Homo sapiens: one gene and its partners. The protein of the gene in region 4 purifies or fractionates together with the protein of the main gene of each other region. This does not show direct contact. Each region holds a gene or a part of one and is shown on either strand. Other genes may lie near its edges.

Evidence for each region.
Region 1: the proteins of ARL15 (region 4) and CNNM4 purify together in Homo sapiens (co-immunoprecipitation; 3 studies listed by BioGRID and IntAct, with this or other methods). This does not show direct contact.
Region 2: the proteins of ARL15 (region 4) and LONRF2 purify together in Homo sapiens (affinity purification with mass spectrometry; 2 studies listed by BioGRID and IntAct, with this or other methods). This does not show direct contact.
Region 3: the proteins of ARL15 (region 4) and FBXO10 purify together in Homo sapiens (affinity purification with mass spectrometry; 2 studies listed by BioGRID and IntAct, with this or other methods). This does not show direct contact.

The regions. Positions count from the first base shown.
Region 1 is NC_000002.12:96,791,902-96,795,401, forward strand, and holds part of CNNM4 (metal transporter CNNM4 precursor), read left to right. Parts: intron 1-3,500. UniProt on the Homo sapiens protein: Probable metal transporter. The interaction with the metal ion chaperone COX11 suggests that it may play a role in sensory neuron functions. May play a role in biomineralization and retinal function.
Region 2 is NC_000002.12:100,284,502-100,288,001, reverse strand, and holds part of LONRF2 (LON peptidase N-terminal domain and RING finger protein 2), read left to right. Parts: intron 1-938; coding exon 939-1,088; intron 1,089-3,500.
Region 3 is NC_000009.12:37,517,381-37,520,880, reverse strand, and holds part of FBXO10 (F-box only protein 10), read left to right. Parts: intron 1-2,442; coding exon 2,443-2,756; intron 2,757-3,500. UniProt on the Homo sapiens protein: Substrate-recognition component of the SCF (SKP1-CUL1-F-box protein)-type E3 ubiquitin ligase complex. Mediates the ubiquitination and degradation of BCL2, an antiapoptotic protein, thereby playing a role in apoptosis by controlling the stability of BCL2.
Region 4 is NC_000005.10:53,883,442-53,887,573, forward strand, and holds the end of ARL15 (ADP-ribosylation factor-like protein 15), read right to left. Parts: intron 3,273-4,132; coding exon 3,120-3,272; 3' UTR 501-3,119; downstream 1-500.

The sequences.
Region 1 (3,500 bases), on a different chromosome or scaffold from region 4:
GGAGTCACTCGCTCTGTTGCCCAGGCTGGAGTGCAGTGGCATGATCTTGCCTCACTACAACCTCCACCTCCTGGGTTCAAGCAATTCTGCGCCTGAAATCTCAGCACTTTGGGAGGCCGAGGTGGGCTGAACACTTGAGATCAGGAGCAGGAGAGTAGCCTGGCCAACATGGTGAAACCCCATCTCTACTAAAAATACAAAAAATTAGCCGAGTGTGGTGGCAGGTGCCTGTAATCAGGCAGACTGAGGTGGGAGAATCACTGGAACCTGTGAGGTGGAGATTGCAGTGAGCTGAGATCACGCCACTGCACTCCAGCCTGGGTGACAGAGTGAGACTCCAGCTCAAAAAAAAAAAAAAAACCACACACACACAAAAATACAATTTTATTAGAATTTATACAATGAGAATCCTAAATATAAGCCCTAAATTGATCTGCTTATTTTAGATGTTAAATCAGTTAGCAATAATTTCCGAAGTATAGAAACTTCTAAATTAGTAAAATCTAAAATAATTCTTTCCATCTTCGGCCTCCCTTCCCCTTCCCCGCTCCCCTTCCCCTCACTGGTTACTTTTCTCCTCCTGCTAAATGGATGTAGAGGCACAAAGAAAGACAGGAGGGACTGGTCACGGTGGCTCACACCTGTAATCCCAGCACTCTGGGAGGCCGAGGAGGGTGGATCACCTGAGGTCAGGAGTTCGTGACCAGCCTGACCAACATGGTGAAACCCCATCTCTACTAAAAATACAAAAAATTAGCTGGGTGTGGTGGCGGGCGCCTGTAATCCCAGCTACTTGGCAGGCTGAGGCAGGAGAATCCCTTGAACCTGCTAGGTGGAGGTTGCAGTGAGCTGAGATCGCGCCACTGTACTCCAGCCTGGCGACAGAGCAAGACTACATCTCAAAAAAAAAAGAGAGGAGGTCAGGCTCACCGTCCCATGGGCCTGATAACTGGGACAGAGCTGCCCTAAAGGGAGACAGGAGTGTTGGGGGGATGGGCATGAGCTGGGTTTTGGCTGCGTTAATTTCAAGGTATTAGTGACGTCAGGCAGCACTTGGATAGAGGAATCTGGAGGGCACGGGAGAGGACAGGGCTGCAGAGATTTATTTGGGACACTTGTACACTTGTATTTAAAGTTGCTAGGCAAGGGACCAGGTGTACAGACTGAGTTCTGAGTCTCTCCAGCATTTAAGTGGTCAGGGAGAAGCAGTGACTCCTGAGGTCAGGAGCACTGGGAGGGCTGTGCCCTGGAAGCCCTGGGCAGAAAGGGCTTCCAGGGGAAAGGAGGGAGTCACCGTTGGTCAGCAGGTCATCTGAGAATAACACTCCACCATGAAAGGTCATTGGTGACCTTGACCAGAGGCTCTCTGGCCCGGGGAGGGGAAAATTCTACCAGGACAAAAAGATGTCCCCTCTGGACAGACAAATTAGAAAATAGGAAAAACAGCCCAGGGGCCCAAAGCTCACCCTGCAGAGGGTGACTGACTGGCCCCTTAGGCTGGAACCTCTGTACGGAACCCCAGTTGGCCAGCCATCAGGCAGTGCCCAAAGCTCAGCTTGCAGAGGAGGGGTGAACGTGTACATGGTGCTCAGGGCTGTACACCTACAAGGTGCCTGTCATGCAGCTGGCTGCCACCCGAGGGTGCACACACACAGCAGTGGATCCCGCCAAGGGGTCTCAGAGAGGAGGCGGGGGGCGGAGAATGGTATCAAGACCCTGCTCAGGGAATCAGCTCATTTCATCCGCAGGAGGGCTGTTTCCACTATAAGAGAGGCTGCCAGGCCGGGCGCGGTGGCTGACATCTGTAATCCCAGCACCCTGGGAGGCCAAGGCAGAATGATCACTTGAGGTCAGGAGTTCGAGACCAGCCTGGCCAACCTGGCGAAACCCCGTCTCTACTAAAAATGCAAAATTAGCTGGGTATGGTGGCGCACACCCAGCTACTCAGGAGGCTGAGGCAGGAGAATCGCTTGAACCTGGGAGGTGAAGGTTGCAGTGAGCTGAGATTGTACCACTGTACTCCAGCCTGGGCCACTCCAGCCTAGGCTACACAGTGAGAGTCTGTCTCAAAAAAAATAAAAACAGAGAGAGGCCAGCAGCCTTTCACTGTGAGGGAACCTTTCGTTGGTCAGGATTTGGTCTGAGCCTGTGGAGTAATTAGGGATGTGAATGTAGTGGAGAGGTTGTTTTCTGACTTTGGGGGTCTGAACAAGGTTCTGCTCACTGAACCTTGTCAAAGAACACACCCCCATTCCCTGGGGCTCGATCTGTGGCAGTAAAAAGCACAGAGGGCCCTTGTCCACCCTAGAGACTCTCACCAGTTTCCCTTTGTTCTCCTTAATTTTGTTTTCCCCCTTAATTTTGTCTCAGTTTTGTTTTTAAATTATAAAAGTAAAACATGCCCATCAAATATAACAGTATAGAAGGGTATATAGAGAGGCAAAATAGCCTCCTCCCCAAACTCCAAATACCCCCAAAGGTGACCACTCTTACTACTTCTGGACGCTTCCAGGGCAGTTCAAGCCCACACACGCCTTTGTTTCTGTGAAGGCAGATGGCTCCATGCATTCTGTTCCGTGACTTGCTCTTTCACTAATAGCGTATCTTGGATTTCGTTCCGCGCTTTATTCATCCACCTCTGCCGTGTTCTCCCTTGAGTAGCTGTGGCCCCTTTTGAGTCCCTGTGCCCTATTGCTATTGCTTTAGGTTGTTTCTGGTTTGGGGCTGTTAAAAAGAATGTTGCCAAGAGCCCCCTTCTCTTGTGTCTTTTGTGAAGGTTGCCTCTCCCTAGGGTGAGTTCCTAGAAGTGGACCTTCTAAGTCCAAGGTTAGGAACCCTTGATTTTGTGACATCCTGACCAACTGGCCCCCTGAAATGTACCCTTTTACCTGGCCACCAACCAGATACATGTGAGGGCCTGTTTGTCTTCCCCATCCTCCACCATAACTGGGCATTACCAGGCTTTTTAGAGGGTGCCCATCTGGAAGGGGGTACAGGTTGGGCATCCCGAATCCAAAAATCCAAAATCCCAAATGCTCCAAAATCCAAAACTTTTTGAGTACCAACATGATGCTCAAAAGAAATGCTCATTGGAGCATTTTGTAGTTCAGATTTTCAGATTTGGGATGCCCAATGGCGTGTATTCTGCAAATATTCCAAAATCCAAAAAAATCTGAAATCTGAAACACTTCTGATCCCCAGTGAGGAATAAGGGATACTCAGCCTGTCAAAGCTGCCTTGCTTTAATTCCCATCCCCATGTGGTGACATGGTTTAGCTAGATGCCCAGGCCCTTCCAGGCACTGTCTTTCTGGAGGGCACTCCTGTATGGACAGCCTCCAGCAGGCACAGAGGCCTGGGGGCGGACCCCAGGGTCCCGGCCTGGCCCGCTGCCGCCCTGCTGGAGGGCCTCACAGATCTCTTGAACTTGTTGGCTCATCTCTAGGAAGATACTGGGGTATTTTCAATCGAGTCCAGCCATGGCTTTGTCTAGCAAGACGC
Region 2 (3,500 bases), on a different chromosome or scaffold from region 4:
TTGATTTGTATAAATCAAATTGAGGGTGGTATATGCATTATATTATAATTTCTCAGCACACCGTAGTTTTTGTAGGTACTGGAATTTTGTAACAGGAAAGGACCTTCATGGTTTATTCCTATTATGCAGATGAGAAAACTCTGCCCTAACGAGGCTGTGAGACTGGCTAGATTCACACATGAGAGTTGGTGATGAAGCCAGACCAAACCCTGGCCCCGTGATTCCCAGTCCCATGCTCTTCCTCCTCTACCAGGTGTTCCTGAACAGGACTGAGGCGTAATTTAAATGACAGATGTGATAGTGACATAGGGACCAGAGGCCAAGCTTGGTCAGTCTAAGGTGCTGTGGCCGACCACAAGCTGGAGTCCATCAGCCCAGGCCAATGTAATGAGTGTAGTCTTGCCCTGTCGTGCCTTTAGGAATATAGTTTGGTGATATGGAATACAATTTTTAAAATGTCACCCTTTGACTTGGTAATTCTGTCAAGGTCTCTAGGAAACTACACTGAGGAAACCATACCTCCCTCCCTTGTCAAAAAAGCAAAACAAAACAAAACAACTTTTCCATAAATGTTTATATTATTGTGTTATTTTTAAAAATAAAAAAGCTAGAATATTCTAAATAACTTACGTGAATAGTTAAGTAAATTGGCATGTATCTCAAATATATAATTGCATGCAGCCATTGAACATTATTCAAAATTACAGGAAATGTGCTTATATTATGGTATTAAGAGAAAAATCAGGATACAATTGATAGATTTCAACTATGCAAAAAATGCAGATTTCTATATTGAGCATGTACCATTTTTGTGAAACTGATGAATTATTAAAATGCTAACTGCCACAAATCCACTTAGTGGAGGTGCAGAGGTCGCTGACTGTGTTACGTGCATTACTGTGAATGGTTCACACAGCTGTGCCTCTTTCCCTGATCAGGTGGAGGGTCCAGAGTATGAAGAACTTGCCGCTCTCCACGATTCTGTGCATCAACAGTCTGTTTCCTGGTTCGCGTCTCTCCAGGATCGCATGAAAGAACAAATTTTAAGTCATTTTGGGGTAATGCCAGACAGAGAACCTGAGCCTCAGGTATGCCCTCCCTTTTTCCTTTATAATTCTGTTACTTCCTGCTGTAGTGTGCTGAGCCATCATTCTGGTGGAGAGCTTGGCAGTATGATGCTGGTTACCCCAATGTGGTTGCTTATGAACCAGTTCATCTACTAACAGCCCAAAGGAGCACCTACTGTGGTAGCACATGACTTGTGAAGCAAAACAACAAAGGCTCTCTAACAGAACATAATTTCTTTTCTAACAACAATCAGTTTATTCTGCTTGGCTGTCAGCTTTTGTAGCCTTTTGCTTCTTTCACTCACATCTTAAAATTTAAGTAGTAACTTTATTGTATTGGCATGAACATTCCACGTTTGGCGCATAGCATTGCCTTGCACCTGGTATAGAGATGTTGAATAAGTGAAGAGAAAAATCCCATCATTCTTGTGACATTAGTAGCGTGACTTCCTTGTCCTCTAAGTACCCTGCTGCCCAGCTGTCATGGGCTTTCTCTGGTGCTCCCTACAAGTACTTTTGGTGAAGCTGGTTCTTTAAGCAATGAATGAGCTTAGGTTTGTGGAGCATTTCTAAGCTCAGGTGGGCCTCTCCTCTGCATTAGATGGGAGAGCCAGGCTGGGCTGGTTTAAGATTGTGCCTGAGAGTGTATACCTCCCACCTGTACATGGATGCTCAGCTGTCAAAGACAGTAGGGGAGGGGGATTGGCTCTCAGCTGGTTTAGGGTGATGTGAAAGGTCTTTTCCCATCCATTTTAACTTTTTTTTTCTGTCTCTTGGAGCTTCTATCTTTTACCCCCTGCCTGAATTCTTTTTTTTTCCAAACACAGAAAAATGCTTTAACTGCCAGAAATTGCCATTAAGTCCTTCCTGGCTTGCCCTTTTTGCATAAGCCTTTGTTCTGCAGTATCCTGGAACTCAGATTCAGAAAGCATGGTGGTTACACTGACTTGCATTAGGATATGAGTCATTCTTTTTCCTAGGAGTTGTTGTTTATTAACCAAATTAATCAATCTCTACTTGGCGGGTATATTAGCTTCCTACTACTGCTGTTAAGAAATTTCACGAACGTGGTGGCTTAAAACAACACATATGTATTATCTTTCACTCCTGGTTCTGCAGGCCAGACTATGATCAGGGTGATGGCAGCATGCGTTTCTCTTTGGAGGTTGTGGGGGAGAGTCTGTTTCCTTGTCTCTGCAGCTTGTAGAGGCTGGCGGCATTCCTCGGCTTCCTTCCTCCATCAGAGCCAGCAATGTTGCTTCTCTCCGACCGTTCTTCCAAAGCCACATGTCCCTCTGACCACAGCCCAGACAGGACCCTATATGAACACATTGGGCCCATCAGGATAATCCCCCCATCCCAAAGTCCTTAACTGAATCACATCCTCCAATTCCCTCTGCCATATAAGGTACCATATGGGGGACCATTTTTCTCATGACTACAGAGGGATTTTAGGTAATACATCAATTTTTATATGAGGTCCTTCCCATTAAGCGTGCTACTCAGTTTTTTTCTTTCTCTGTGAGATGAGGCAGGGAAAAGAGTGTGAATCTGTATAAAAGGTTGTTTTCTCCATCTGTGCCTTTCTACCTCTGAAGGGCAGGTTGATGTCTTCCTCACAGTGACTTGGGCTACCCCTGGTGAGCTTTGGCCACAGTGCTATTCCTAGTCCTCCAGCATAATCTACCTCACCCTAAACTAAGGTGACTCCAGAGTTCACCCTCCCAGCTCTTATCGGCATCCTGCACATTTTTGGAGAAGGAATAGAGTGAAGAATCCTAGACCCTGGAAACAAAAAGGCCTGGATATCTTGGTTCCAGTACTAAGAATATTGAGAACGAGTTTATGATCGGCTTTTGCCTAGCACTTAGTCTAGAAGTGCTTTGTTTGATTATGTGAAATAAAGGTTATTTGGTGGCATAATAATTCTTATATATATAATTTATGATAACTCTTGCATATGACATGCATACATATATATGTTTCATACATACACTCATTTGCCACATTGAGTATGTCACTCAAACTTGTACACATACTTTTAGCCTTTATAATATTATGCTTTATATGGCATGCTTAAGACATAAAAAATAATAGCACAGAACATTGGAAAGTGAAGGTTAAAGTGATAGTATTCTCCTCTGACTGGTATATACTCTTAACTGAAAGCTTGAGAGAACAGAAGCAACTAATTCATAGAATCTCCCCATGGAAGATGCTTCTCTTTGCAGGCTCTTCCTTTTGTGAGTTCCCCCACCTTTAAATGTGTACCATAAAAGTAAACTATGTATTTTGAGAGCTGAATGAATTGTGAATTAGCCCTAAAATACAAGGTGGCATTTAATTCTTGCTCACGTGTCTGTTGGTGGAGCAAAAGACTGTGTTGGGGAACAGGCTTGCATTTCCAGTGTTAACCTTGCTTTCCCCTCATCT
Region 3 (3,500 bases), on a different chromosome or scaffold from region 4:
ACTGAAGCCCACCCAGCTCAGTGCCCCTGTCCCTGCAGTACCAAATCCCACCTCTGGCACACATGCTTTTAATCAACTCTAGGATACATTTCTCAAAATTCAACATCTCCCACGAGATGCATATCATGGTTTAATTGGCAGTGAGTTTTCCTTCTTAGAGAGGCAGAAAATAAAAGTGTTTTAAATCCATGTTATCCTAAACCTGATGAAAAATGGAGGCCAGGTGCCAGGGATCAAGCCTGTAATCCCAGGACTTTGGGAGGCCAAGACTGGGGGATTGCTTGAGGCCAGGTGTTCAAGACCCGCCTGGGCAACATAACAAGACTTGGTTTCTACAAAAAAAAAAAAAAAAAAAAAAGAAGAAGAAGGAGTAGAGAAAGAAAAATTAGTTGGATCTGGTGGCATGTGCCTGTGGTCCCAGCTACTCAGGAGGCGGGGGGATCGCTTGAGCCCAGGAGTTCAAGGCTGCAGTGAGGTGTGATTGCACCACGGTATTCTAGGTGCTCAGAGCTCAGGAGTGACAGGAGCAAGACCCTGTCTTAAAAGGAAAAAAAAAAAAAAAAAAAAGATGGTAGAAGATGTTTGATATTTCTTGAATTAAAAAAAAATAATTACTGTGTAGTTCACCTAACTCCAGGGCTCCCAAAGCCTCCTGATTATCAAAATCACTGTGGGGTGGGGGTGGGAGGGTAGGATGGATGGGTGGGTCGGGAAATGGAGGAAGGCTTATTCAGAACAGATTCCTGGGCCAGGCGCAGTGGCTCACACCTGTAACCCTAACACTTTGAGAGGCCAAGGCAGGAGGATCGCTTGAGTTTAGGAGTTCAAGACCAGACTAGGCAACATAGAGAGACCTCAATCTCTACTGAGAAAAAAAAAATTTTTTTCAGATTAGCTGGGCATGGTGGTACATGCCTGTAGTTCCAACTACTAGGGAGGCTGAAGTAGGAGGATGCTTGAGCTCAGGACTCAGAGTTCGAGGTTGCAGTGAGCTATGATGGTGCCACTGCACTACTGCCTGGGCAATAGAGCAAGACCCTGTCTCTAAAACAAAATAAAATTAAAAGAGATTCCTGGGCCTGGTAAGCACTTGCTTCTGGTAGTGGTAGAGGACAGGGAGATGGATAACCAGCAGCCCCAACCCACTTATTCAGAAAATGAGTTCTGTCTCCTCCCAGGTCAGAGGTTCCTCCATGTGGCCATGCTGTCTGTCCGGTACGACAGGCAAAGCCACCTACGTTCACAAATACTTATTTTTGTTGTTCTCAACCAAGCCAGGAGAAGCAACAGGCTGGTGCCACCAAGAGATTTGAGCTTGCAGGCTCATGGCTCCAGACACTGCTGCAGGGCCCCAGTCATTGTCCTGCACACAACCTCCCCCAGCACTGCCCCAACCCTTGTTGCTGTTGGTGGGCAGAGGGACCTACCGCAGAGCCCTCCTCTCCTCGCCCCCGGGTCTGGCTGCCCTGCTTTCTTTTCCTGACAAGCCATGGAGCTCTAATCCTGCTGACTTGGGGTTTTTCTCCTCATGTACCTAGTGTCTCTAAGTACACACAACCGCAAGCGTCAGTTTTCCTTTCCCAAATTTCAAACACATTTTTGACACATATTACTCGCTTAGTAAGTTTTTGTACTCCAAAATTACAGAACTTACATTAAGAAGAAAATTTCCGGCCAGGCATGGTGGCTCACGCCTGTAATCCCAGCACTTTGGGAGGCCGAGGCAGGTGGATCACGAGGTCAGGAGATCGAGACCATCCTGGCTAACACGGTGAAACCATGTCTCTACTAAAAATACAAAAAATTAGCCGGGCGTGGTGGCGGGTGCCTGTAGTCCCAGCCACTCAGGAGGCTGAGGCAGAAGAATGGTGTGAACCCGGGAGGCGGAGCTTGTAGTGAGCCGAGATGGCGCCACCGCACTCCAACCTGGGCGACAGAGCGAGACTCCGTCTCAAAAAAAAAAAAAAGAAAATTTCCCCAAACAGTAGGGAGGCAGATTCCAGGTTAGTGTAGGAAGGAGAGCAAAGCAAAACCCTCTAATGAGTAGATCTGCCTGTCCAGAGGGGGAGTGAGCAGCCTTGAGGCGGCAGTGAGCACCCCGTCAGGGAGGTGTAAGCGGCAGTAGGATGGCGGTGGTGCAGGAGGCATTCAAGCACACGGTGGGAGCTCAGGCCAGAGGAGCCTTCTCACATGGTGTTTCCCTGGCTACACTGAATAAGGACTTCATGCAGAAGAACCAGAGTTTTGTTGACGCACCTGGATTTCCTCCTGCTGTTTCATCAGCTTGGAAGACGCAAACTCAAGGGTTGTTTCTGAGTGTTGGTACCTCTTCTTCTCCACTCCGTTCTCCCGGAGTGCACAATTCAGGGAAGGCTTTTCCTGACTGGTGGTGTCAGGGCTGACCCTGGGACCCCCTGTGCTTTCCAACCCTTCCACCCATAGCCTCAGGACTCTATGTCCAGAGCAGCGAGGCACTGCATGTCATCACCAATGTGATCCACGCGAATGGGGACAGAGGCATTACTGTGGCCCAGAGCAGCCAACCCACCCGAGTGGCCAACAACAGCATCTCCTGCAACCGGCAAAGTGGGGTCAAGGTTGAGGCCCAGTGCAAAGTGGAGCTCCGGGGCAATGGTATCTATGACAACAGAGGCCACGGCATTATCACCAAGGGCGACAGCACCATCGTCATTGAAAACGATATCATTGGCAACCGGGGCAGCGGGCTGCAGCTGCTGCCCAGGTCCGACACTAAAGTGAGTATGTCTGCATGTGTGTGACGTGTGGTGCCCACACAGGGCACAACCCTGGGATAGTCCTCGTGGCCTCTGCTGAGAACAGAACCGTAATCACTCAGCACTACAAGGGACAGTATCCCTCCTGCCAGGACTCAGCCTGGGAAATGTGGGTGGGACTTCCCACAGGGGGGGACGGAGAAGCTGAGTCCTGAAGGATGAACAAGGGCTCACCAGCAGGAAGCCAGGGATGGGGTGTCCCCTCCTTGTCATGGTGTTGGGAGCCTCCCGAGTTATCTTCATGGTCTCCGGGTCAAGGTCAGGACTATTTCAGCTCTCTTTCCTTAACAGAATAATCATGCACAGTGCCTGCTGTACAGTAGATGCTTCATGAAGAGAGAGATCCTGCCTTGGGGCCTTTGCATACACTCTTCCCTATATACCCTGCATACCTCCTGCCCGCCTTGCACTGCAGTCCTGCAGCTTAGCTGTATCTTTGTTCAGGAAGAGTCCCTGAGCTCCCACCTCCCACCCCAGGCTGTTTGAGTTATCTCTTGTCTAGTGCTTTTGTCCACACATACCTCACAGAGCACTCCCCACAGGGCTTGGTCCTCACAGAGCACTCCCCACAGGGCTTGGTATCTCTTCCTTCACCTATTTGTCTCCCCACCGGACTGAGCTCTGAGCACCTTTCTATGCAGAGCTCCGTTTCACTGTGGAGCCAAACAGATCTTGTTCCTGCCCTTATGGAATTACGATCCCAAG
Region 4 (4,132 bases):
CTATCTATCTACCACTTGATTTTTCTTTCTTACTCTTTTTTTAGACCTGCATCCTTAAGGATGGATCTGTAAATGCACAGTATTTCCTCGAGTCACTTAAAAATATTACTTAACAGCATCAATCACCATTGAATGAAATAACTCATTGCACCAAACTTTGCCACTCAAGTTAATTTCACAGCACATATTATAAAATAATCCTTTGATTGAAGGATGATGCTTTATAATAATATCTTGAGTCTGTTCACACACTCCGAAGGAACAGCTTCAATAAGAGTAAATTGCTGCTGAAGACAAACCAACTGGAAAAGATACTTGCTTTTTTTTTTTTTTTTTTTCTTTTAAGGTTTTCACAATGGCTTCAAAGGAAATGCGAATTAATCATTTGTTTTGACCCAAGAGCAGCAGAACTTATTTTGGAGACAAACAGGCGACACAAACGTAAACAGAAATCTGGGACTCCCAAATGCTAAAGTTGAAAGGAGTTAGTCTGAAAACACCAGTTCTACTCAGCGTTTATTTTTCATTTGAAGATAGTGGAAATCGTAGAAATCATGGACAATACAAGTTGGTCTTGCCTGGTAAATGTCCACATGAATCTGTTAGCCTCTAAGTACAGGTACAGTATTTTTTTAATAGAAAGACAGGGCAATATGGCAGTTAATTAGCAACCAATACTGTCAACTACAGTGGATACAAAGTTTTATCATATAAATTAATTGCCATTACAAAAAGGCAACTGCTTTAGCTAAGAAGGTACAAAAACTGGAAACGTCCATAAATATTACAAGAAGCTAGGTGAAGAAATACATAACAGACTGTTTTTCCTATATAATATTTGAATATGCAAACCAAGACACCTGTGGCACTTTACATGAAAGTAGGAAAAGGGACTTACACTCCCACCCCCAGCCATCCCACCCACCCCACCACCCACCCACCCATCCCCACCCGTTCAGGCCCCACCCCGCCCCCACGTGGATTTCCAAAACATGGCAAATTCTAGGGTTACAAGGACAGGATGCCGCGCGGAAGCAGCAAGACAGCGAGCTCCGACCTGCTAGACAAAGAGGGAGCCTTATTGACAGTTGTAAAGCATTAGGCGTCAGACAGAAACTTGTCAAAAACAGCTGTTGTTGGGTACTGATTGATAATGTTTTCATTCTGACGGCTGAGACGCTGCAGACAGTCGTGGGTTTGAGGAGAGGCCCATCACTGGCGCACACATGAACACACACACGCAGACCACGGGAAGTCATTTAACAGATGGCTTAGGAGCACTCAGCCACGGTGTCTTAAAAAGACAACATTCTACATTTAATGAACTTGCAGGGAAAGCAAGGCCTAATAATCATTTATTTTTCATAGAAGATGAGCACAACAGGACAAAATAAAAACAGGAATTGTGTAACTGGTCATCGGAATAAAAGTTTTGTGCTGCTCAGGGATTACACAGTGTTAAAAATATTCAAGAATGCTGCAGACAAAATTGTATACGAATCACTATGTATCCTTCCTGATTCATGACATTAAAAAAAAAAAGCTTAAAGAAGTGTTTGATGTTTCAAAGGTAATGATTTCATTACAATCTACTCATAAGATTAAACCACAAAAACTACATTTAAATGGCATTAAGGGTCTGAAGTCTATCTTCTGGAGAATTACCAGGTATTACATCATTCTGTAATATAGTGTGAGTCTGTGGTATTTGGGTATCAGTCCATTTTACTTAAAATTACAAACATGTTTTTACACTCATGTGCAGGGAGCAGTTTTTTTTATCATTTGGCCACTTAGTATTTTAAGTGGTCAAAGTCTACAAAGTATGCCAAAGAATATTTCATCTGTGAACCTCAATATGCATAGATTTTTTTCCTGATTTAGAAAAGATCAAAGGTGCTAAACCTTAGTAAAACTGTACATTTATCCCTATGCAATTTTGTCATTTAAATTAAATGGAAAAAAAACTAGTTCCAAAGACTGAATATGAGTCCCAATATTATTTATTTGCTGCAGCCCCAGCACAATTTTAAGGGCACATTGAAACCCCTGAAAATAGAGGTTTATAATAGAAATACTGATAAACCTTTAACTACTAGAGGAAGGCATTAACAGATTCCAATAAACTACAGTAACACGTAATGAATGAATATATAGATGATTCTGTCTTTGTTATCTTTGTCAAATCCATGCCATCTTAAACCCTAACCAGTATAAATTATACTTTTTCTGGCTGTTTTTAAAATTTTTATCTATTATTTTAAAAATTATTTTCTCTATTTTAATCAAACACTTGAAGTTTTTAGAAAAAGATACCTATGTTACATTGCAGCTTCACTTTATGCAGGCTCATCATTCCATTAAACAATATTTGAAGACTCGAATCAATCAAATACAGTCTGTGATGCATGCATTGTACCTAAATTTCCTCTAACCACTCTCAGAAACTGAAACAATGTCTTTGCTCTTAAAAGAGAAGAGACTTCAGATGTAATCAAGAAAACATTGTGTAACTTGCCTCTAAGCTCTTCAGAGCCAATTTTACTATGGCAGGATATTCCTTCCTGATAAGGTGATTAATGAAGTTTTTGGTGCTCACTTTTCTCTCATAGTCTATAAGCTCAGTATACCAAAAAAAAAAAAAAATTAGATAAAATAAAACAAAACCCCCAATAGGTCTTGAAAATAATATAAATATTTTGTGGAGTCCCAGTCACATAATACTCCACTCCCAAACCCAGAGAAAATGATCAAGGTCTTGTGAGTCTTTCTGAGTCCTTCAAAAGGGATTTGATTTCCATAAGCCATGAATTCCATCCGTTTCAGCACAGAGTATAGAAGAGATGCTTAGAACAACAGAAGGAAGAGACATGCGGGGAAGATAATTAGTGGTAAACAGAGAATAAATTCTCTCTCAGTAGTGTGTACTTGACGTTAATGCCGATGATAATTCATCTGATCTACAGAATATTCACTTTAATAGAGAGATGAGAGTCTGAAATGACCAGAGGAAAATAGATACTGAAGCCAATATAGTCTTGATACCAAAATAAAATTAAAATGAGAAACTAACATGATAGGTTCAAGGCCTTTTGGGAGCCTGTTTTCTTTGCCAGATTTCACATTCTTACAGCTTCATGGTCTTTTTCTTCTAACAAATTAATCAGCTGAGAGAAGCTGTCTTTCAGTGCATCCATGTCATCCAGTGAGCAGGGCTGTAGAATCCAGCGTTTTCCACGTGCAAGTGGTTCAAGTTCAAAATATTTTTTGATCTTAAGAGGAAAAAATAAAGATAAATAGGTTATTAATTATATCAGAAACTTTCTCATATCAAAATTCTGAGGGATAAAGTAGGGGAATTTCGAGGCGGAATTTATACGAACTGTGATGCCTACAACTTTGCAATGTGGATGCCTGTCCGCAGCTGTTGTTATAATGTGGGTTATATATTGTGACCTGGGAGTGTTTTCTTTAGAGGTGAATGATCTGCGTGCAAGCCACCATTCCACCCATACATTTAGCAGCGTGGGAGGTCTGATGAAGTCAGAGAAAAAATTATTTGCACTATGGCACCAGTCAAGATACATTGCAGACACCAAAAGATTCGATTTCATCAAAATAATTAGCAGAGTAGCTTTCACTATCTCACCTTGCCAACTTATTAAATGGGTGACGACTTACAGTAGGTACTATATTGATTACTCAAGACTCAATTATTTTGACCATCAAGCACATAACACAACAAAAATCTAATTTAAATAATCTTCTTCTCTTTCTCTCTCAAATTTCTAGTATCTGCTTCTGAGACATGAGAGCGTGTTTTCTAGGAAAGAGGATAGAAACTGCATGTATGTATGTTTGTATGCATATACACACTTACATAAATTTACATATATGCGTAAAATCTTCTACCTTTTTTTTTCTTTTTCAGTCCTGAATTTTCTAGGATGGAAAAAGCAAGAACTTATAATAGGTATGTGCTGAAAAACCTGTTCAATTAATAACCAGTCACAAGTCACTCTTACTATATTGGCCAGCATACTGACTAACGGCATTTAGTATTACCAATTCCTGGCTGTGAATAAATAGCAAATTATTATGGCTTCTAGAAGTATTGATGATCTTCTCTCAA